3 linked regions of the Homo sapiens genome follow. The protein of the gene in region 3 purifies or fractionates together with the protein of the main gene of each other region. This does not show direct contact. Each region holds a gene or a part of one and is shown on either strand. Other genes may lie near its edges.

Region 1 (7,033 bases), on a different chromosome or scaffold from region 3:
CAGCATGGTACTGGCATAAAAACAGACACATAAACCAAAAAAACAGAATAGAGAACCCAGAAACAAATCCACACACCTACAGTGAACTCATTTTTGACAAAGGTGCCAAGAATATACACTGGGTAAAAGACAGTCTTTTCCATAAAGGGTGTTGGGGTAACTGGATATCTGTATGCAGAAAAATGAAACTAGACCCCTATCTTTTGCAGTATATAAAAAGCAAATCAAAATGGATTAAAGAATTAAATCTAATGCCTCAAACTTTGAAACTACTACAAGAAAACATCGGAGAAAACCTCCAAGACACTGGTCTGGGCAAAGATTTCTTAAGCAATGCCCCACAAGCACAGGCGACTAAAGCAAAAATGGACAAACGGGAACACATGAAGTTAAAAAGTTTCTGCACAGCAAAAGAAACCATAAACAAAGTGAAAAGACAACCCACAGAATGAAAGAGAATATCTGCAAACTACCCGTCTAACAAGGAATTAATGACCAGAATATATAAGTAGCTCAAACAACTCTACAGGAAAAAAATCTAATGATATGACTAAAAATTGGGCAAAAGATCTGAATAGACATTTTTCAAAAGAAGACATACAAATGACAAGGAGACATATAAAAAGGTGTTCAACATCACTGATCATCAGAGAAATGCACATCAAAATTACAATGAGATATTTTATTACCCCAGTTAAAATAACTTTTATTCAAAAGAAAGACACTAGCAAATGCTGGCAAAGATACGGAGAAAAGGGAACCCTTGAACACTGTGGGTGGGAGTGTTAATTAGTACAACCACTGTGGAGAACAGTTTGGAAGTTCCTCAGAAAAGTAAAAATAGAGCTACCATACGATCTAGCAATCCCACTGCTAGGTATATACCCAAAAGAAAGGAAATCAGTGTATCAAAGGGATATCTACATACCACATTTGTCGCAGCACTGTTCACAATAACCAAGATTTGGAAGCAACCTAAGTGCCCAGCAACAGATAAATGGATAAAGAAAATGTAGTACAGTTACACCTTGGAGTAATACTCAGCCATAAAAAGAACGAGATCCTGGCTGGGCATGGTGGCTCACGCCTGTAATACCAGCACTTTGGGAGGCTGAGATGGGTGGATCACAAAGTCGGGAGTTCAAGACTAGCCTGGCCAAGATGCTGAAACTCCATCACTACTAAAAATACAAAAATTAGCCAGGTGTGGTGGCACGTGCCTGTAATCCCAGCTACTCAGGAGACTGAGGCAGGAGAATCACTTGAACCTGGGTGGCAGAGGTTGCAGTGAGCCGAGATCACACCACTGCACTCCACCCTGGGTGACAGAGCAAGACTCCATCTCCCAAAAAAAAAAAAACAAAAGAATGAGACCCTGACATTTGCAACAACATGACAACATGGATGAAACTGGAGGTCATTATATTAAGTGAAATAAGCCAGCCACAGAAAGACAAACAATGCATATCCTCACTTACTTGCGGGAGCTAAAAATTAAAACAATTAAACATATGGAGACAGAGAGTAAAAGGATGGTTATCAGAGCCTGGGGCGGGTTTTGAGGGGGCAGCGGATAAGTAGGAATGGTTAATAGGTACAAAACGTAGTTAGAAAGAATGAATAAAATCTAGTGTTTGATATTACAACAGAGTGACTACAGTCAATAATGATTTAATTGTACATGTTAAAATGAAGAGTATAATTGGATTGTTTTCAACACAAAGGATAAATGTGTGAAGGGATGGATACTCCATTTACCATGATGGATTACACTTTGCATGCCTGTATTAAACTATCTCATGTACCCCACAAACACATATGCCTCCTATGTACCCACAAAAAATAAAAATTTTTAAAAATGTGTAAAACAAACAAAAAAAGACACAAACAAGTATTCCCTGAAGATAAAACATGAATGGCCAGTAAACATATGAGAAAAGGTTCAACTTCATAGGTAATTAGGGAAATGAAAAATAAAAATCCAATGCAATGATAATTTATGTGAGTTAGGTTGACAAAAAAATTTTAAATGTTGGCAAACATGTAAAGCTTTGGGTATTCTTATGTACGGCTAAAAGGTTATAATTGGTACAGCCCTCTAGAGAAATAACTGAACACGATGTTGTAAAGTGTTAACATTCATGTATCTCAGGACTGGGGAATTCCACCCCTAGATATGTTTCCGAGAGAAATTCTTGAACATACACAACTTGAAACATACACAAGGGTGTTAACCTCAAAAAACTGGAAACATCCTGTGTTCATCAACAGAAAAATGAAAAAATAGATTGTGGTGTATTCACAATAACATACTATATAGTAATAAAAAATTAACTAAAATTATATGCAATGACAATACTTTCCATCATGCTATTGAGTGGAAAAAGGAATTTATAGTATTTTTATCAAGCTCAAAAAGAGGCCACACTGAATATATCACTTAGGTGGGTAGATAGGTAGGTAAATAGATTATAAAAAATAAATAGAATAAAGTATATATTTGCATATACTAAATCTTGAATAAATCTCATTTTTGCCTGCCTAATTTTCATCTGTTATTCAAGTATCACTTTTAGAAGGGACAAGAAAATCAATGGCAAACTTACCTGCAGAAACACTGGGGGAGTTCTCCTTGGCCATATAAAGGAAACAAAAATGGAGTGTTGCCATACCGCCCAAGACAGTGAAGAAAGTTTTTGGTAGCTTTGAGACCATCTATGGTGCTGCTGGCTGTCTCTGATGTCATTGCAATTGAATGCATGACAATATATTGGAGGTTGGGGGTTAATTTTTGAGTCTTTAAATATTCATAAAATGTGATCTCTTCATATCCTATGAAAAGATGAAATTTTATCACTTAAAATCAGAACTAAACTTCTATTTAAAACCACCCCACAAAAAGGAGATGAAGTGTGTTTCACAGACCTCACAAAGGACATAGGTGGTATTACATTTTGGACACTGATGGTTGATCTTAGGAAAAAATGGAAACAATCTCTCTCTCTTATTTGGAGTAATGGCACAATTTTTAGCTTTAAATGATGAATTATGATTGAGCATTTCATGGATTTAAAAAAAACTAGAAAATATTAAATAACTCAATGGGTTGTCATAGTTGGCAATAATCTCACTTTATTATCATGAAACCTGCAGGATAATGCCAATAATGGTACTGAAAATATTAAACAACTATGACAACATGGGAATGTATTGATTTAAAATGATAAATATGTGAGTTTTGTAAAACGTATACTTCTCACTGATACTCAGAAAATAAACTAAAAAATAATGAAATGAATTTCCATGTGGCTACTGGAATCAGTCTTATGGCCACATAATCACATCAAAACATACGGGACCCCCAGAAGTTACTCCTTTAAACCAAGAACAGAATATAATGTAATTGGACTGTTAGTGGTGGGAAATAAATCCCATGATAAAAGACAAAAACTTTACAGAAATAATTTACATAAATAAAAATTATGAAAATTTACTGAGAGAATTGAATTTTACACAGCCACTGTGGATAACAACATGACAGTACCTAGTAGACTTGAAGCTTTAAGAGCAAGGATTAGACTTTCATTATTTCACAGAGGAAAAAAAATATCGCTGCACTTCTCATTGTAACTTTATAAATAAATTATCAATAGTATATTCCAATTTTGGATAACATTTTCAGACCAATGGACTTAAAGTATATAGCTCTGACACTAAAATGGCATATTCAATTTTTAACAGACAATGAAGTAACTGGCCCCAGATCACATAATGAAATAGGTCAAAGCCAAGAATAGAAACCATGCCTTTTCTGAATCCAGTATTTTTCCCCATATACCATCTAGCCTTTTTTTTTCAAACGAAATAGTTCAAGATTCTATGCAAAAGCAATCCTGGAAAATGATAAAATATATAGTATTTTTACTTATGAGAAAAAATAATGGAATCATGAAAACAGATTATCATCTATGAAGAGCCAGTTGACAGTAGTATTTAAATAATAAGAATAAAAATTAAAATCTAGCATGCCACTTCAGCAATGAAAATATCTGCACTGTAGCCACATGGGGCTATGGGAGCCCTTGAAATACAGCTAATAAGACTGAGAAACTGAATTTATTTTATTTTATTTCACTTTAATTAATTTAAATTTAAATAGCTAAATGTTACTAATGGCTAACCTATTGATAGTGCAGAGTTAGAATGCATTTTAAAACAGTAATAAGTGGCTCACTAAATCAGAGCAAGCATATTAAAATAGTAAGAAATGTCAAATAATTGGAGAGCACTACTTAATGAAAAAAATACCTTTATATTCATCAGGATATTTCTCATATTCCATACAAAATGTAAGAAATTTCATTAGCATTCGCTTTTCTACCATAGTAAGTTGTTTGCTATTAAAGACATCTGCTCTGGAACACGGAACCTGAAAAATATTATGATTTTAAGTTAAGAAACTGCTTCCTAATGATATAACTATTCCAAATTACACTTTTTTCCCCTTTACATATAACAGGATTATCGTTTCCACTCTAGCCAGGCTTTTTCACATCACCGTCCATCAGTACTAATGGCATCTCTGCTAACTTCAGAGCTAATTGTGAGCTTTCTTACTTAATTCTGCCAAGTTACTCCCCATGCCATTAAAAGGCCAACGGCATGTCATCCTAACAGAGAAAAATTTAGCAGTGCTATCTAAAACAAACACTGTGGTTCTCCCTATGTACATGTTAGTACATTTTTATGCCTTTTCTCCAATTAATCTGCCTTTGTGAGTTGATTTTTCAGTGAAACTTCAGAGGCTTAAGAGGGAGTGTTTCCCTTGGCCCCTACAGTTTTGGTGCTGTGAGCAGGATAGCAAAGCTCTGCTCTTCTGGAAGCTGCAGTGAAGAACCCAGGATCTGATCAGCTGTCATAAGGGTAAGAATTTTTTCCCAACCAGGCTCCGGGCCTCCTCCTCTGTGTGGAATCTGATCAAGTGGACAGCAAAAATCACCGTTTCTTTCTTTTCCCTCTCCAAAATCTTGATTAATGGGAGAAAAGGATTTGTGTGACTAGTCTTGGGTATAGTAACTCTGGTGTGCTTTTTGGTTTTTTGTGTGCTGCTTGGTACCAACACCAAGCTGCAGAGTAAGCCATGAGAAAATTAGCACTAGAAATTTTAATTAAGCATTTACATTTGTAAATCACCACGGAGGACTGGAATTTACTGCTTTATGAGGAAAATAACAATCTTATTTGCTTATCTTTCCAAAACAAACCATAATAACTTAAGCTGATGCCCAGTTACAATTCTTGATCAGCACAGTACCTGTTCCACTCGTCCTTCTCGAAATGCAAGAATCCTGGTAATATTTTTAAACTCTGCATATCGACTAACATTAGATTTGATTAGAAGATCAATTAGTAATCCTCGAGAATACAGCAGCTGTACAAAGAAAATATTTTACAAGATAAAAGTTGAAATAGTAGAAAAATTGGAAAACAATAAAGATACATAATTTTGCTATATTTTTTATTATTTGTAGAAACAATCATACCTATAAATATTATAATACATAACACAATCTATTACAGGCTCAGAATTGATTAGCTGAAATTCAAAATTCAAAAAACTTTGCAATCCATAAGTTTTTACAAAACATGTTTAGCAGCAAAACCTGATCCATACTGATAAGGCACTCTGGCTTTGTTTGTCCAAATTAACATAAATATTCATATATTTCACTGCAGAAATAATGTGTTTAGTTAGAGTTCCTCCTCAGACCCTGCTAATAATTTAACCTAACATATAACATATCAGTATATGTACTTCATTACTTTCTAAAATATATTTTTTTAATCTTAATGATAGAATACACCAGGCCCTGAGGGTTTTGGATAAGAATCTATAGTCTTACACAAAGCCAGGTAGTTATAAGAAGAAATCAGTCCAGTGAACCTCCCTACCCCATCAAAAAAAGAAAAAAATATTTGTGATGCATTTACACTGAAAAAGTCAAATTATAAGGTACTTCTGTAATTCTAGAAGTCTGGGTTTATATGAGATATGTCTTTCTCAAAAAGTGAAGATGATGATTATTGCTGGCATGTATGGGAGAAATTGATTTAATCTTTCAACATCTCATAAGTAATATCAGAGAGATAAAATCAATAATGTAAACAGTATTATCTAGCATGTTAACCGTATGGTTAAATGCAACAGATTTGACTATTTCCTATATTAAGATACTCTTAATGCCTATAACTCAATAAATATTAAAAATGAATGTTACATCTATAATAAATAAATGGGAAAATTAGCTTTACTATACAAAGAAAAAGGAATCTCAAAAATCAATCTAAACCATTAGTCTGAGCAACTAATAAGTCAGTAAAGACTATCAGTAAATCAATACCATTCAAGTAAAATTTTATAAACTAATAGTTCAGCATTCTGCAAAACAAAATTGACATCACTTTTTTGAAGCTAATCTGATCATCCTGATTAAATATGGCACGTTACTTCATTACCCTCTTCCTAACACACTACATTACTGAAAGAGACCATGTTTTAAAGAATATATTGCCAATTCTTAACTCTATAATAATGATAAAAAATAGTTACTTCAAAAATCACTTGTTTAAAAAGATACACATTTGAGACTCAAGGATCCCTGCATAGCCATAATAATGTCACAAACATTAAGATATAAAATATGAAACTGCATTTTTATTTAATAAGATCCAATAAACCTTAAGGTTTAATGCCAGCTTGAAAAATAATGCATTTAAGATATCACAAGAACAAAAACAAATTTCAATTAAAATTATACTAGATTTTTGTTTCTGAAGCTCACAAATAATAAATGTGTACATATCAGAATCTAAGCCTCTTTTTCTTTTTTTTTTATTGAGACAGAGTCTCTCTGCTGCTCAGGCTGGAGTGCAGTGGCTCAATCTCAGCTCACTGCAACCTCTGTCTCCTAGGTTCAAGCGATTCTCCTGCCTCAGCCTCCCGAGTAGCTGGCATTACAGGAATGCAATGCCA
Region 2 (7,033 bases), on a different chromosome or scaffold from region 3:
CAACATTATCATGTGTAGGTACCACCTTCTGCCAAACACAATATCCAATTAAATGAATTGATTTAATGTACATGGAAGGCACAATTAACTATACAAAGAGCCCAGACCACAAAGAAGTTTCCTGATCTGTGTGCAAACACAGCCTGCCAGTAAGCACACAGGGATAAGATCTGGGAGTCTGCCAAAATATCAAATTAACATACAGAAGGAAGAGAGGGAGAGAAAAAACAAGATAAAGCTCCCAAATAAAACGAAGATGGAAGGACTGGAAAACTAAGGATAATAAAAAGCTGAAGAGAATAAAATATGATCATTATGAATAAAGATCCTAACAGCAACATTGCCAACTCTCACACCAGAGGACTTACAAAGAAGGGTATTTTATAAACTTTAAAATCAGCAACCACTCAACCACACGTGAGTAATCTGTGAGATGCCAGTGGTTCAACACACGTTACCTTTTTGGCATAGAGCACAATTTTCTGGAATTGGCCTGTTTCTGCAAAACACTGGATCACTTTGCTTGGCACATTTGCCCGAAGGTACACACTCAGAGCGAGCATGGGGTCAGTGGTTTTGACCAAGTCTCCGAGCTCCTCTGAGCACTCCAGCTGTGGTATGCCAAGGGACAAGGCAAAGTTAGGAGGCAGGTAGGGAGCCTGGACCAAGTTTTCAAGCTGTGCGGGGGGGCTACGAGCTCACAAGTGTTTCTACCTTATCTTCTTTCAGCCACTTCTCTAGGAGTTGCTTACGCCCCTGCTGAAGAACCAGATGGCAAAGTTCTAAGGATTCAAGTTTATTGAGCTGACCCTGGTCGAGCAGGATTCCGAAGTACTGCAGCAATGGAGAAGCCTGGCCAGACTGAGCGGGTATACTCTGGAATTTCTGGACCGTCTCTCTGGTACGCAGGATTCCCTAATAATAAATGGAAAAATAGGTCATTGTGTTGTAATCACAGGGGATCCCTTCACTCAACTTCCTTGTATGTAAAAACAAAAATCTGCCAGTGGAAATTCCACACTGCTCTGTCATAGACAAAAAGTCCTCTACCAAGGCAACTGCTTCTATCTTCAACAATAACCATAAGTATAGGGGAATCTAGGTCCTCCAGGTGGCTTCACACTTAGGGTCTTACTTCTCCCCCAGCATGCTGCAGTAAGAATTCGGCCTCTCAATCAGTCTTGTAGTAGTGAAGTTCTGCTATCATTATATTCTAATTCAAAATACTCAAATTCACAGATGAAGGCTAGAAATGGTTTGTTCACAACTACCCCTTGAAAGACAAGAAAAATTCTTTCAAGGACAAGCAACTTGAAAGTCTTTATCTACTCAGGAACAGATCCAGTCTCTGAACAATTTATCCAAATGAAATAAACCCAAGAAAAAGCCATATGCCGAAATGCTATATTCTAAAAGAGTGGAGAAAGTCCAGGGTAGGACTATCGCTAGATAAAACAGGGAACAACCACTTGATGTATTGTACAGTTGCATATTTGACAACCAGGTAGCAAGAGTGGAAAATGCTAAGTTACAGAAATGTGAAACTGTATCTAAGCTGTTGGGTGAGAGGTACGTATGCACACAAAGTGGGAGGCGTGAAGAAGTGCCGATGCAGCAAGAGTGTGTTTTTTGTTTACTTCCTTTACTGTTATGCCATTGGTGCAAAAATTTTAAACTAAAAACTCCTAACATAACACTAATAGACTGCAATATCACTAGTGAAATGCTTTTATGACTTATTTTCCTCTCAAGGTTGGTTCTTAACACTCAGAACACTTGAACAGTATTCAAGGTTTATCACCTTTGGTGCAGACGCTGCAACTTTGGCGGCTTCAGCATAGCTGCCCTGTGCAAAGAGGGTATTGAATTTTCTCACAAACAACTTCTCTGCCCCAGCCAGGTTACTACGAACGGCCAAACGCAGACCAAGGTCTGGATTCTGAAGCACGTTGGTTGCATAATTCACAATGTTATCTTCCTCAACACAAACTGACAGTACCTGTAAGGACACAACAAGTGAGAGCAGCCCGGCCTAGAAGAGTGCTCCACCATCCCTCTGCCATGTTCCCTTCCGATGCTGGAGTGGTAGCCACATTCTCAGGCGAGTGTTGAGCACACCTGTGATGGTGGCCCTCACAGTGAAAGGAGGCAAAGCAGCCGAAAGCCAAATGGTAACAAAACAGAACAGCATAGGAGTCTATGTAGTTATTAAAGTCACACAGATAAGTGTGATGCGTTCTGCGCTACAGCAAAATGACCTATGTGGATGGAACTGACAATTTTTCTTCTTAAACTTTTTATTTTTAAAGTACAGAGTTTCTTTCTTTTTTAAAAAATATTTTTGTAGAGACAGGGTCTTACTATGTCGCTCAGGCTGGATTCAAACTCCTAGCCTCAAGCAATCCTCCTGTCTCAGCCTTCCAAAGTGCTGGGATTATAGGAATCAGCCACTGTTCCCGACTTTTTTTTTTTTTTCCCCTGAGACAGGCTCTCACTGTTTCACCCAGGCTGGAGTGCAATGGTGTGATCACAGCTCACTGCAGCCTCAAACTCCTGGGCTCAAGCCATCCTCCTGCCTCAACCTCCCATGCAGTTGGGATTACAGGCATAAACTATTGTGCCCAGCCAAGAGTTTCTTCTTTTAACTATCTTTTTCAACTATGGTTGAGAAAAGTTACTTAAATACCATAGTATCTGCTTTTTCAACCCTCCCCAGTTAGGGTGTGCATGGTATAAAGATGATGTGCATCAGAACTGCTGTTCTATACGCAGGAAGGAGCTGCTCTCCTCCTGGAATCAATCCTGTGTTAGGAATGGTGCTGTCTGAAGAGAGGAAGTGTCAATATGAAGGAGGAGACATGGGTTTAAGTTTAATAACAGGAACTATTAATAGCTACACCCAGCTGCTTTCCTAGAGAAGGGGGAAAGTTTAAACGCCAGTCCCTAATGAATGGAAAAGGTAGAAAATGAAATGTCAGAGTTACACACCTGTCCCTTTTTGTTGACACCAATAATTCCAGAGGTTGGTTTGTGTGGAGCAGTGACAAATATTGTGTCAGCACTAATACGGTTCATGCAGATGCACACGCCAGACTCTAGGTCGTACAGATGAAGATAGCCATACTTTGTGATCAAGTAAATAACACCATGTTTAGCTCCAATCTATAAGAAGACAGAGAGCAAGAGGTTGGAAAGTAAGGAGGAGAAGCCATGCGGGTAAAAAGAGCTCACAAATGATAAAGAGGATTCTTGTTTGTTTGTTTGTTTTTTGAGATAGGGTCGTGCTCTGTCACCCAGGCTGGAGTGTAGTGGTGCCACCATAGCTCACTGCAACTTCCGACCTCTGGGCTCAGGTGATCCTCCCATCTCAGCCTCCAATGTAGCTGGGACTACAAGTGTGAGCTGCCACACCTAGCTATACAAGGATTCTTCAGTTTCTCAGGCCGAGAGATTACTGGTGGGAGCAATGCTTTCCTGAGACATGGATTCTAAGTTGTACTTGATTGAGAATTAGTTTTAAAGACAATATTTTGTCCAACCACTCTCAAATAAAGGTCCAATAAACTCAGGCTACTCCATTTATCTTTCAGGTAGAGCGATCCTTTCACAGTTTATCGAACCCCTTTAAGCAAGCTGTGAGTTCATAAGAGAAGGGGAAAGTTCTGGACAAAGACCTCAAACGCCAAGATGATGTTCCAGCATGCCTTCTACCACCACTTATTAACCTTTGAGTTTTGCCAAATGCTATTAACTTTTACAGAAAAATATTTAACACACAAGAAAACCTGAAGGGGCTGGGGAGAAAAAACAGATGCATTTGCCCAACCAGATTATTAAACATATATATTAAAACAGACAGTAATTTTTGAAGTATGATTTTACCACTGGAAGAGACAGAGAGAGAAAATAATTAAGAGCCCTGAAAGAGAATGAATCATATATGAGAATTTATTAAGAATGAGTGTGTGGTGGCTAATGACTATAGTCCCAGCTACTTGGGAAGCCAAGGCAGGAGGATCACTTGAGCCCAGGAGTTTGAGTCAAACCTGGGCAACGTAGCAAGACTCCAACTCTAGAAAAATAAATAATTAGTAGGTAACATATTAGTGGAAAATAGGCACTTTAATCAATATATAACATATATTATTAATATAGTTAGCTAGCTATCTGGAGATGGAGGTAAGAGTAAAGAACTGAATTTCTATCTTACTCTTTAGATCAAAGTAAATTCCAGATGGGTCAAAGATTTTAAATAAAAAACAAGGACAATTAGGATAGGAATGAAAGAAAATATAGGTAAATGTTGTGATCATCTTCAGGTGCAGAATTAGTCTCAAAACATGATACCACTGCCACACAAAAATGCAGCACTTCCATAAGGTGCCACATATCACAAATTACGACTGGGAAAAATATTCAAAATACATCAGACACTTAGTACTCTACAAGTACAAAAAGCTCTTACGAATAAGGTAAAAATCCTGGAGTTGGGCACAGTGACACACACCTGTAACCCCAGCTGCTTGGGAGGCTGAGGCAGGAAGATCGCTCGAGGCCAGGAGTTCAAGACTGGCCTAGGCAACATAGCAAGACCCCATCTCTACTTTTTAAAAAAAGATCCCAATAGAAAAAAAATGCAAAGATTAGGAAAAGGCAATTAACCGGATACATATGAGTGGCTGATACATCAATTCTGCCTTGATGGTAACCAAGGGAAAGACATCACAACATGGGATGCTGTCCAGCTACCACCGGCAGCATCAGTAGGAATGTGAACTGGCCAGCATGGTCAGGAGAGTCTGTGATGAGAGTGTGCCCCTGACCCAGCAGTTTAATTTCTAGGAATTTATCCTCGGACTTTTAGACTAACATACAAAGATGTATGGAGCACAATGTTCCTTATAGTGTTTCTTGTAAATGTAAATACCAATCAACAGGGGATTGTTTAAATGAGTTGTAGCAAATCCACAGAACAGATGACACAGACAATAAAATACATACATTATGTTACTGGAACAGAATGATCTACAACATAGCTAGAGGAGTTTATACAGCAGCAAGGCTAGTGCAGAGCCATTTTCATAAGAGTCCATCTGTATAAATCTGCACAAATGTATGCATGTTAAGTTACTTCCAAAGGGGTAGCCAAATTATCAGCAGTGCTAGGATTTCAGGTGATATTTAATCCTGCTGTTACATTTATTGATATTATTAGAAATGTACAGATAACATATATTTTATGAGAACAAAAGAGTAAAAAGGAGAGTAGATTATATAATCTTACATATATAATGTGATGCCAATTTTGTTCAGAAAAGGTATAGATCTAAATTTTTTATAAAACAAATTGTAAGATTTTTTATTTTTATTCTTATTTATTTATTTATTTATTTTTTGGAAATGAAGTCTTGCTCCAGGCCGCGGTGCAGTGGCATGCAGTGGTGTGATCTTGCCTCACTGCACTCTCTGCCTCCTGGGTTCTAGAAATTCTCCTGCCTCAGCATCCCATGTAGCTGGGACTACAGGTGCACACCGCCATGCCCAGTTAATTTTTTATATTTTAGTAGAGACGGGGTTTCACCATGTTGCCCAGGCTGGCGTCGAACTCCTGAGCTCAGGCAATCTGCCCGCCTCGGCCTCCCAAAGTGCTAAGATGACAGGTGTGAGCCAACGCGCCCGGCCAAGATTTCTTATATATTTTACATCCAACTGGTTTATCTACAGAGGAATGTTTTCTGACTCTGTGCCTTTGACACTTCCACAACAATATTCTGCTCCTCAATAAGGAAAGCACACTTGATCCTGTCACGAACACACTTAGCACACACGGAACCACCACAGGCCCTGCTGACATGTGTTTCTGTTTTAGGGAACCTCACAAGAACTTCAGGTCTCATAGCACGAACTCCTCGAAGTCTGGCTAGGCACATGCCACATGCAGGTTCAGGTGTTTTCCCAACCTTCTTGATGTAAAGGTGAATAATTCTCCCACCAGGGGCTTGGGACTACCTAGTTTCACTAGAGGCTGCGTGTCAAAGGCTGGGCCATTCTGAATGCCAGCTCAAAGGACTGTCCCTGGGAGCTCTAGGCTCCCTCAATGGCAGCCAATTGTAAAGGAAATAAGTGTTTTATTCTTTTTTTTATTATTATAAGTTCTGGGTTACATGTGCAGAACGTGCAGTTTTGTTACACAGGTATACACGTGCCCTGGTGGTTTGTTGCACCCATTAACCCGTCACCTACATTAGGTATTTTATTCTTTAAATATTCTCATACCACAGTGAACATCTAATCTTTTATAATAAGAAGGAAAGAGCTGAGGACTTTGATGTGTGACTTGGCAACGTCTTCCTGCTGCCCTAACTCACCCTCATGCCGGGCATTCCTTTCTACGAACAGGGCTTTCCCAGCTCACACGCCAAAGCCTTAGGCCTCTAAATGGGTTTGAAAGCATCACAGTGGCAGGAGACAGCAGAAGCAGACTAAAAATGGCAGCCTCCTGTATCTTGGGAGGTGCTAGAGTAGATTTTAGGACATGAAGATGTTTAGAGAGCAGCACATTCGTACCTGCATAGCCACTGGAAAATCATTCTGTGCCTCTGGAGGAAAAAACACATCTACTGCTTTCTTTACAAAAGGTTGGTTTCCCGCTGCAGGCTGTCCAACTTCAATGATGTGCAACTAGAAGAGAGATTTTAGGTCAATCAAGGGGACCGCCTGTGGTGGTGGGCAAGTGCTAGTCAAGGCACAGAGGCAAGTGGAGCCTCAGCTCCACACACTGGATGATTAACGCTAAAAGTCACATTCAACCAAAGCAGAACAACCCCCTTGTCGGAGTGCCTGTGATTATCCAATAACCTGCTGCCCACCACCAAGCATGGCACAAAGGGCCAATGCCAGGCAGCCTGGAGCCTCAGTTCCAGCACAGTGGCAGAGTCACTTCCCCTCCCCGGGCCTGGATGCCGATGAAACAAAGGGCTCCAGTCAGAATCTGCTGTCCCTTCCAACTCTGCTCTCTGCCTTTCTGGGTATG
Region 3 (7,033 bases):
GTAACACATTGCAAAAACTGTGCTTATTTTTAAATATATTTAACTGTTCATTTTTAAATAATTTTGGATTTACAAAAACATTGCAAAAAAAGTAAACATTCCTACCATTCACACATATTTCTCAAATGTTAACATCTTAGATAACCAGAATACAACTATCAAAATCAGGAAATTACATAATAGTGTTGTATCAGTGCTAGCCTAAAAAGCTTACTCAAATTGCATCAATTATCTCAATGCCCTATTTCAGATCCAGGATCATAAGCTATATTTCACTGTTGTCGCCCTGGTCTCTTTTACTCTCGAACAGTTCCTCACTCTCCTTGCTTTTCATGACCTTGACACTCTCAGAGAGCACTGGCCGGTGAATATACCTCCATCTGTGATGTTCGATGTTTCCTTATCATTAAATTCAACGTATGTATTTTTGGCAGAAATAAAACACAAGTGATGTACCCTGCACAGTTTATCAGGAAGCACACTGCTTCAAGTTGTTTTTGCCATGTTTCTCCACAGAAAAGTTATTATTTTTCCCTTTGTACTTAGTGCAAATATGTAAATATCCTGTTTCTCACCGCACTTTTCCCCACTAATGTTATCATCAATTAATTCCTCCCTACAACAATCATCACTGTGGTGTTTAATGGTGACTTTTTTATTTCTGCCATTCCTTCTACATTTATTAGCTGGAATTCTACTGTTAGAAAGAGGTTCCACACATGTATACATACGTGACTAACCTGCACGTTGTGCACATGTACCCTAAAACTTAAAAGTATAATAAAAAAATAAAAATAAAAAAAGAAAGAGGTTCCCTTCTCCCCCATTTCTTTATTCATTTGTTCATTTTTATCATGGATTATTAGTTTACTCTATAAGTTGAACCCATTACAGTAATTATTTAGTTTGTTGCTCAAATTGTCTTACATGTTTGGAGCTTGTATGGCAGTATCCTGTATCTTTGTCACATGTCCCCATCATTTTGTAAGCATTTCCTTAGTTTCTTGCACAACAAAATATCTCAGGCACATCTTTACTTGACTTGTTCCACCCGTCCTAAAATCAGGCATTTCTCTAGAGATTCCCATTCTTTTTACTGGAGAATGATATTTAAAAACCGAATTTTGAGCACGAGGTAAGTTAATTGGTTCTGTGGTGTCATTCCTTTTAAGCCCTCTCAGCAGGTATGGCTAGTAAATAAACGTATGTATACACACATGCATCTGTATCAACTTCTTTATCTGTTTACACATATGTGTGTGTACATACATATATCTATACACACTCACATATATATATGCATATACTCTTACACACACACACATATGAAACCTGAAGCTCATATTAATGTCTAATCCAATCCAATGCTATGAGGTTCATTGTAGCCTTTTTCCTTATTTGTAAACCCTTTCTCAGACAACAAGAAACCTAAAACAGCTGTGCTATTTACAGGCATCTTTCATAGCACTGAAACAAGCTTTTTATTTATTTTTTACCTCCACTCCCAAGATAAGTGTTAACTTTAATTCAAGTATTGATCTTTTGAATGTCCAAGTGACATTCAGTCCCAGCTATCCCCATTATATCAAATAATTATAAAATTCTCTAACTGTATTTGGAAGCAGTTGGTTAAAATTCCAATGATAGTGTAACTAGTCACATGTTAATGTAATTCCCATATGTTAATATTATTAAAGTTTCATATTAGAAATCCATTATTTGCCATAAAGGTGAAATGATGAAATTTATTTGCAAAAGTTATCTTTTGCCTATGTTCCTAGTGAAATTCGGATGACTGCAATTCAAGCAAAAGTCAGATCTGAAGTTAGCTGCAGGCCAGCTCAGAAGTGTACCTTAGTGACATTTAGGCAGTACTTTAAGCCTTAACTCTAAGATTTTTAACCTAAATTTTTTTATTACTGTTATTCTCTTGGAACACGTCTGGTTTACTGCTAAGGAAATTCTACAGAAGCTGCTTCTATTATATTTGTATGGAAGCACAGAGCAAACTTGAAACTTGTACTCTTAACCAGCGTTTCACCTTTCACCTCTGCGTGTAATCCTATCCATACATAAAGTGAAACCGATGACTTACACAGTCACAAGCTACTAGTCACATGACGTCTTACATCTGGGGGCAAATCTGGATTTACTATCTGAAAGATTAAATAGAGCCTAAAGGGGAATTTTGTCTATCATTTATAAAACTCCTCCACCAAAATGCACACTCGCATAAGCAGTTATACTTACTGCCCCTTTTTTTTTTTTCGTCTTTTTACAGCAAAGCTGGCAAGTAGAGCAAATCACCCAATAGGCATACAGAGCAGACAGAGGGCATGAGTGTCCAGAAGAACACGCCTGTAATCCTAGTGCTTTGGGAGGCTGAGGCAGGCAGATCACTCCAGCTCAGGAGTTTGAGTCCAGCCTGGGCAACACGGCAAAATTCTGTCTCTACTAAAAATGCAAAAAGTAGCTGGGCATGGTGGCACATGCCTGTGGTCCTAGCTTCTTGGGAGAATGAGGTGACTTCTCTATAAGAAGGCTTTCTTTCTGTGATTTTCTCCTTCGTGTCAGATTAAGTGCTCACATAGCACTCCTGGGCTTCATCTTTCTTCTATCACTATGTTTTATTTATGAAAGGAAATTTTAAGATGCTATATTTATTCAAACAATTAGCCTCTAGCTTAGGAGTGTACATTTCTGCCTGCAGTAGACAGTCTTTTTTTTCCCAGTGACTCCATCATTGCGCAATATTTTTGGAGCGGTCTCCTTTTGTGCAGTCTCTCATTGCTTCGCTTTTATCCCGCAGATCATCATTGGCATCAAGTAGTTTTTCACTCTAAGGGTAAGTTTCTAGTAGAGCTAAACCTAATCTGATTAGTAAATATCCAGAATGAGGTGGGTGATTTGGAGGAACAATCATACATACATACATATATAAAAACACCCGTAAACACACACAAGAAATCCACAGAACATAAACTAAAAGCTAGAACTGTGTTATGATTTCAACAAATTTATGGTATAATGTTTATCTGTCATCACAGAATTTTTCAAACATTTCATCATTCTTACATAAATCTGATTGTCACTAACCCCCTTATGTGAAAGTTCCAATGCACGTAACCCCCCCCCCAAACATTTTATATATGTATAATTTTCACCTTTTTTCTATATCTAGACTATTAAGATTTTTTTTTTTTTGAGATGGGGTCTCACTTTGTCACCCAGGCTGGAGTGCAGTGGCATGATCTCGGCTCACTGCAACCTCTGCCTCCCAGACTCAAGTGATCCTCCTGCCTTAGCCTCCCGAGAAGCTAGGACCACAGGCATGCACCACCATGCTCAGCTACTTTGTGTATTTTTGGCAGAGACAGGGTTTCGCCACGTTGCCCAGGCTGGTCTCGAACTCCCAGTTCAAGCGATCTGCCCGATCCATCTGCCTCGGCCTCCCAGACTGCTAGGATTACAGGCATGAGCCACCGTGCCTGGTCACTAGACTGTTAAGATTTTTGAAAGTCAACTGAGTGTTTTATTTTTTCCTTCAGAAAATATTTTATTCAGCTTTCCATAATAGACAAAAGAAAAAATTCTCACTCTACTGTTTATGAAGCATACCACAAATGTTGATACTTTCTGGCTGTTTCAAATCTTTCGTACACAGTTAACCTAAAACTCTTCAAACATCATCTGAATAAATCTCCTCTCTGATCTTTTCACATGGTCCTGCATGTGACACACATCTTCACCAGAGGCATCTTCCTATTCACTTAGCCTTTTGTAAAAACCAAAAATTCTCGTGCTTGACAATACCCCCAACCACTCTAGTTGCATGAGAAGTACCTCAGTTAAAAACTCAAACTCACAGAAAATGTCATTTGCTTTTTGCCCTAAATAATTCTTTTTGTTTTGATGGAAAATCTGCCCTTCTATTAGCCATTAGCCAATTTGGAAAGCAGTCCTGTTGTGGACTGAAAGAAGCTATAACACATCCATGCTACACTTCTCATTTTCCAGACTTTCAAACACCACTCACATAAATATATCTAAATACTTTACATTTACAGCTCAGAATTATGAGCTAGAAAGCAAAAGATGCATAAGCAAAGCAGATCTCACCTTTGCAGAGGTTTCAAACCATCCGGCAAAGCCATGTTCTTTGCAGAATTGGTCCACCTGGGAAGGACTCTGGCTACTGTCCTTGTTCTGGTCACATTTGTTAGCCAAGAGGACAGCAGGGATAGGGCTGCCATTTGGAAGATGAACTTTACTATCCAGATCACTTTTCCATTTTAAGACTGCCTCAAATGTGGAACTTCTTGATATATCAAAGACTACAAAAGCACCAACAGCTTCCTTGTAGTATACTCGGGTCATGTTGCCAAATCGCTCCTGCCCTAGACATAAATATAAGAAAAAATTAAAAACTTGTAATTCAGACAGAGTCTACATTTAGGTATAACCCCTTTTACCCCAAGAGCAACACTATGAACAAATGTCTTCCATTCCACAGCAATATAACCTGGTGTGATTAAGGCTATCCATACAGACCATGACCCATAGAGCAGATGTGTCTGATAATTTGGTTTAAGTACATAATGAATTAGTTTTATGTTCTGTACAACATATTCTCCATAAAAACCAATATGACAATATTTAAAGCTACAAAGTCTGTCATTTATTCCGACTCGTCTCCCCTTAGTCTAAGAGAAGAGAGGCACTAAAGGAAAACATAAAGCTGGAAGTAGAGGAAGAAGAGACAAGAATAGAAGAAATGAAGCCTGCAGGAAGGAGATAAGTGCAGTGGGTAACATGCTAGTCAAATAGATTAGGGCTGGACATGAGATAAAGTAGTTCATGTTCTCAACTCATCTCTCCTTCATATCTCTAGCCCATACCCACTTCTGACTCAATATGCAAGATTTCACCCCTGTAAGTAGTAGATACATGAAAATCTGTTTCAGAACAAAAGGCACAACTGGTTGTGTTGTTACAAGAAGAATCAATTCCAGGGTTCTTCAAATGTCATTGTACTTTTAAAATAATTTATGTCAAACACTTTGGGAAAAATCTGCTTTGTACATTATATAGGACTTTGCAAAGCGTTCTCTTACTATCTGCTATTGTACTAATCTTTGGCATAGGAAAGACCCTTCTTTTCATCTGACAGATGTAACAACAGGAAAATGGATGCTTGGCCAGGATTATAGTGGCACTGACTAAAGAAGACAGGACTAGAATCCAGGTCTTCTGACTCCCACACACCTATAGAAGTGGGATGCTAGCCTTTCTGAACTATCTTGCAGTTGCCTTGACTTAGTTACTGACTACAGTGTGAAGGAAAAATGATTGGCAATCAATGCACATCTAAGATGTATCACTCTGTTCTATGATAAAGACACTTTCTTCTTGAAACACATGAGCAACAGGCTTTATCTACATTTTATTGACACATTTTCTCTGCACAGATGCAAAGATACCCCAAAATATAAAATTCTTCCTTCTCCAAACTCTACAATGCAATATAATTTTATATATTGTTTTAGGGAATAATGGAAGAAGAATAAAACAATGGTCAAACGTGAATGCATAAATTTAAGGTTTGTTTTGTGATGACTCCTCATATGGTTTAACTGAAGCTGTACTGTAATAGTCCAAAGGTCTAAATTTTACTGTAACAAATGGTCACATATGAAACCCTACTATTATGCTCATATTTTATTGTGATGTAAATCTGACCATTATATAGTTCATTGGCTCATAATGCTGACATTTATAAAAACTTACATGATATGCCAACTGTTCAAAATCGCTATTCTGCAGAAAGACTATATGCATTGAAATGATTCAGACTCCAATTTCAAATGCAGTGCACACATTACCAACCACTTCCATTTTTATATATTTTAATTATTGAATATGAAAAGACTAAGCAACAAGATATGACAGTCTTAAATTAGGAAATTGAAAAAGTAAGATTTCAAGATAATTACATGGTAATAAACTATTCCTTTGGACTATATCTTTAATTTAGAAAAGAGAGTGGGGTGACAAATGAGTAAAAGAACAGTTAGAAACCTAGAAGTTAACAAAGAGTTGTTAAACTTTAGTGACTGTTGCTTTTTTTTTTTTTTTTTTGTGAATCATCTGTAAATTTCAAGTATTTCCTTTTACTCGTGCTCATGAAAGATGATAGGAGAGTTGTGAAAAAAAAGACAAAGGGATATTACTAGGTATACTAATCGACAAAGTATAAGATGCAGCAAGGCAATCAGGATCCACATTCTATTTTGGATGGGAATCAAAACAATGTAAAATAAGTTTAGGCATAAATTATATAGTTTATATCTTCCAAGCACACATTTTATGCTTGGGTAAATATTATTTATATGAACTTCAGAGCAGACTGTTCCCAATTTGTCCTTTGGCCCAAAGGAGAGTTACTCATTCAGATTTTTATTAAAAAATGTTGATCCTAAAAAGCAAATCACTCAGTCAATACATGAAGGCTAAAGTATACTAGACCTAAATGGACAAACTTGTTTTTTTAAGATTTAACCTAGACCAGTCTTTCAATTTGCCTGAAAAATGCTATAGTGACTAATAAGCAATAAGCATATAATAGTAAACCAAATACTACTTTACCTACACTGAGCATTAAAAGGAAGATCAGAGACATCTCTTGCTATATCTTGAGTATGCATTTATTAAGATCTCTGTAAAGTGTTATCAAAGACTTCAAGATTTTAGTATATTTCAGTTATGTTTTGAGCAGCAGTCCTAAAGTACGTGTGAGTTAAGAGATGGCAATTGTCTAACACAAAAACTGCACTAAACTGCATCTGTATTTTAAAGCCAGATTCCTTCAATGCCGTAAGAACAGATTTGTGTATCTGAGGATCACAGTGGTTCTTAACCTGAAGAGTTCAGCTGAATCTGCTTAGCTACATGTGTAGAAAACATTTGATAATTCTAGCCTATCATACTTGCCACAGCTTTCAAGCATAGAGATTCGTCATAATTTCTTCACTAC

What was found. Proteins that work in one complex are often made in the same cells at the same time.
Region 1: the proteins of RAB32 (region 3) and CHM purify together in Homo sapiens (affinity purification with mass spectrometry; 4 studies listed by BioGRID and IntAct, with this or other methods). This does not show direct contact.
Region 2: the proteins of RAB32 (region 3) and CLTCL1 purify together in Homo sapiens (affinity purification with mass spectrometry; 3 studies listed by BioGRID and IntAct, with this or other methods). This does not show direct contact.

The regions. Positions count from the first base shown.
Region 1 is NC_000023.11:85,953,547-85,960,579, forward strand, and holds part of CHM (rab proteins geranylgeranyltransferase component A 1), read right to left. Parts: intron 5,432-7,033; coding exon 5,315-5,431; intron 4,430-5,314; coding exon 4,309-4,429; intron 2,833-4,308; coding exon 2,607-2,832; intron 1-2,606. UniProt on the Homo sapiens protein: Substrate-binding subunit of the Rab geranylgeranyltransferase (GGTase) complex.
Region 2 is NC_000022.11:19,232,708-19,239,740, forward strand, and holds part of CLTCL1 (clathrin heavy chain 2), read right to left. Parts: intron 6,682-7,033; coding exon 6,568-6,681; intron 3,163-6,567; coding exon 2,989-3,162; intron 2,000-2,988; coding exon 1,802-1,999; intron 916-1,801; coding exon 715-915; intron 612-714; coding exon 459-611; intron 1-458. UniProt on the Homo sapiens protein: Clathrin is the major protein of the polyhedral coat of coated pits and vesicles. Two different adapter protein complexes link the clathrin lattice either to the plasma membrane or to the trans-Golgi network.
Region 3 is NC_000006.12:146,546,828-146,553,860, reverse strand, and holds part of RAB32 (ras-related protein Rab-32), read right to left. Parts: intron 4,398-7,033; coding exon 4,120-4,397; intron 1-4,119. UniProt on the Homo sapiens protein: The small GTPases Rab are key regulators of intracellular membrane trafficking, from the formation of transport vesicles to their fusion with membranes.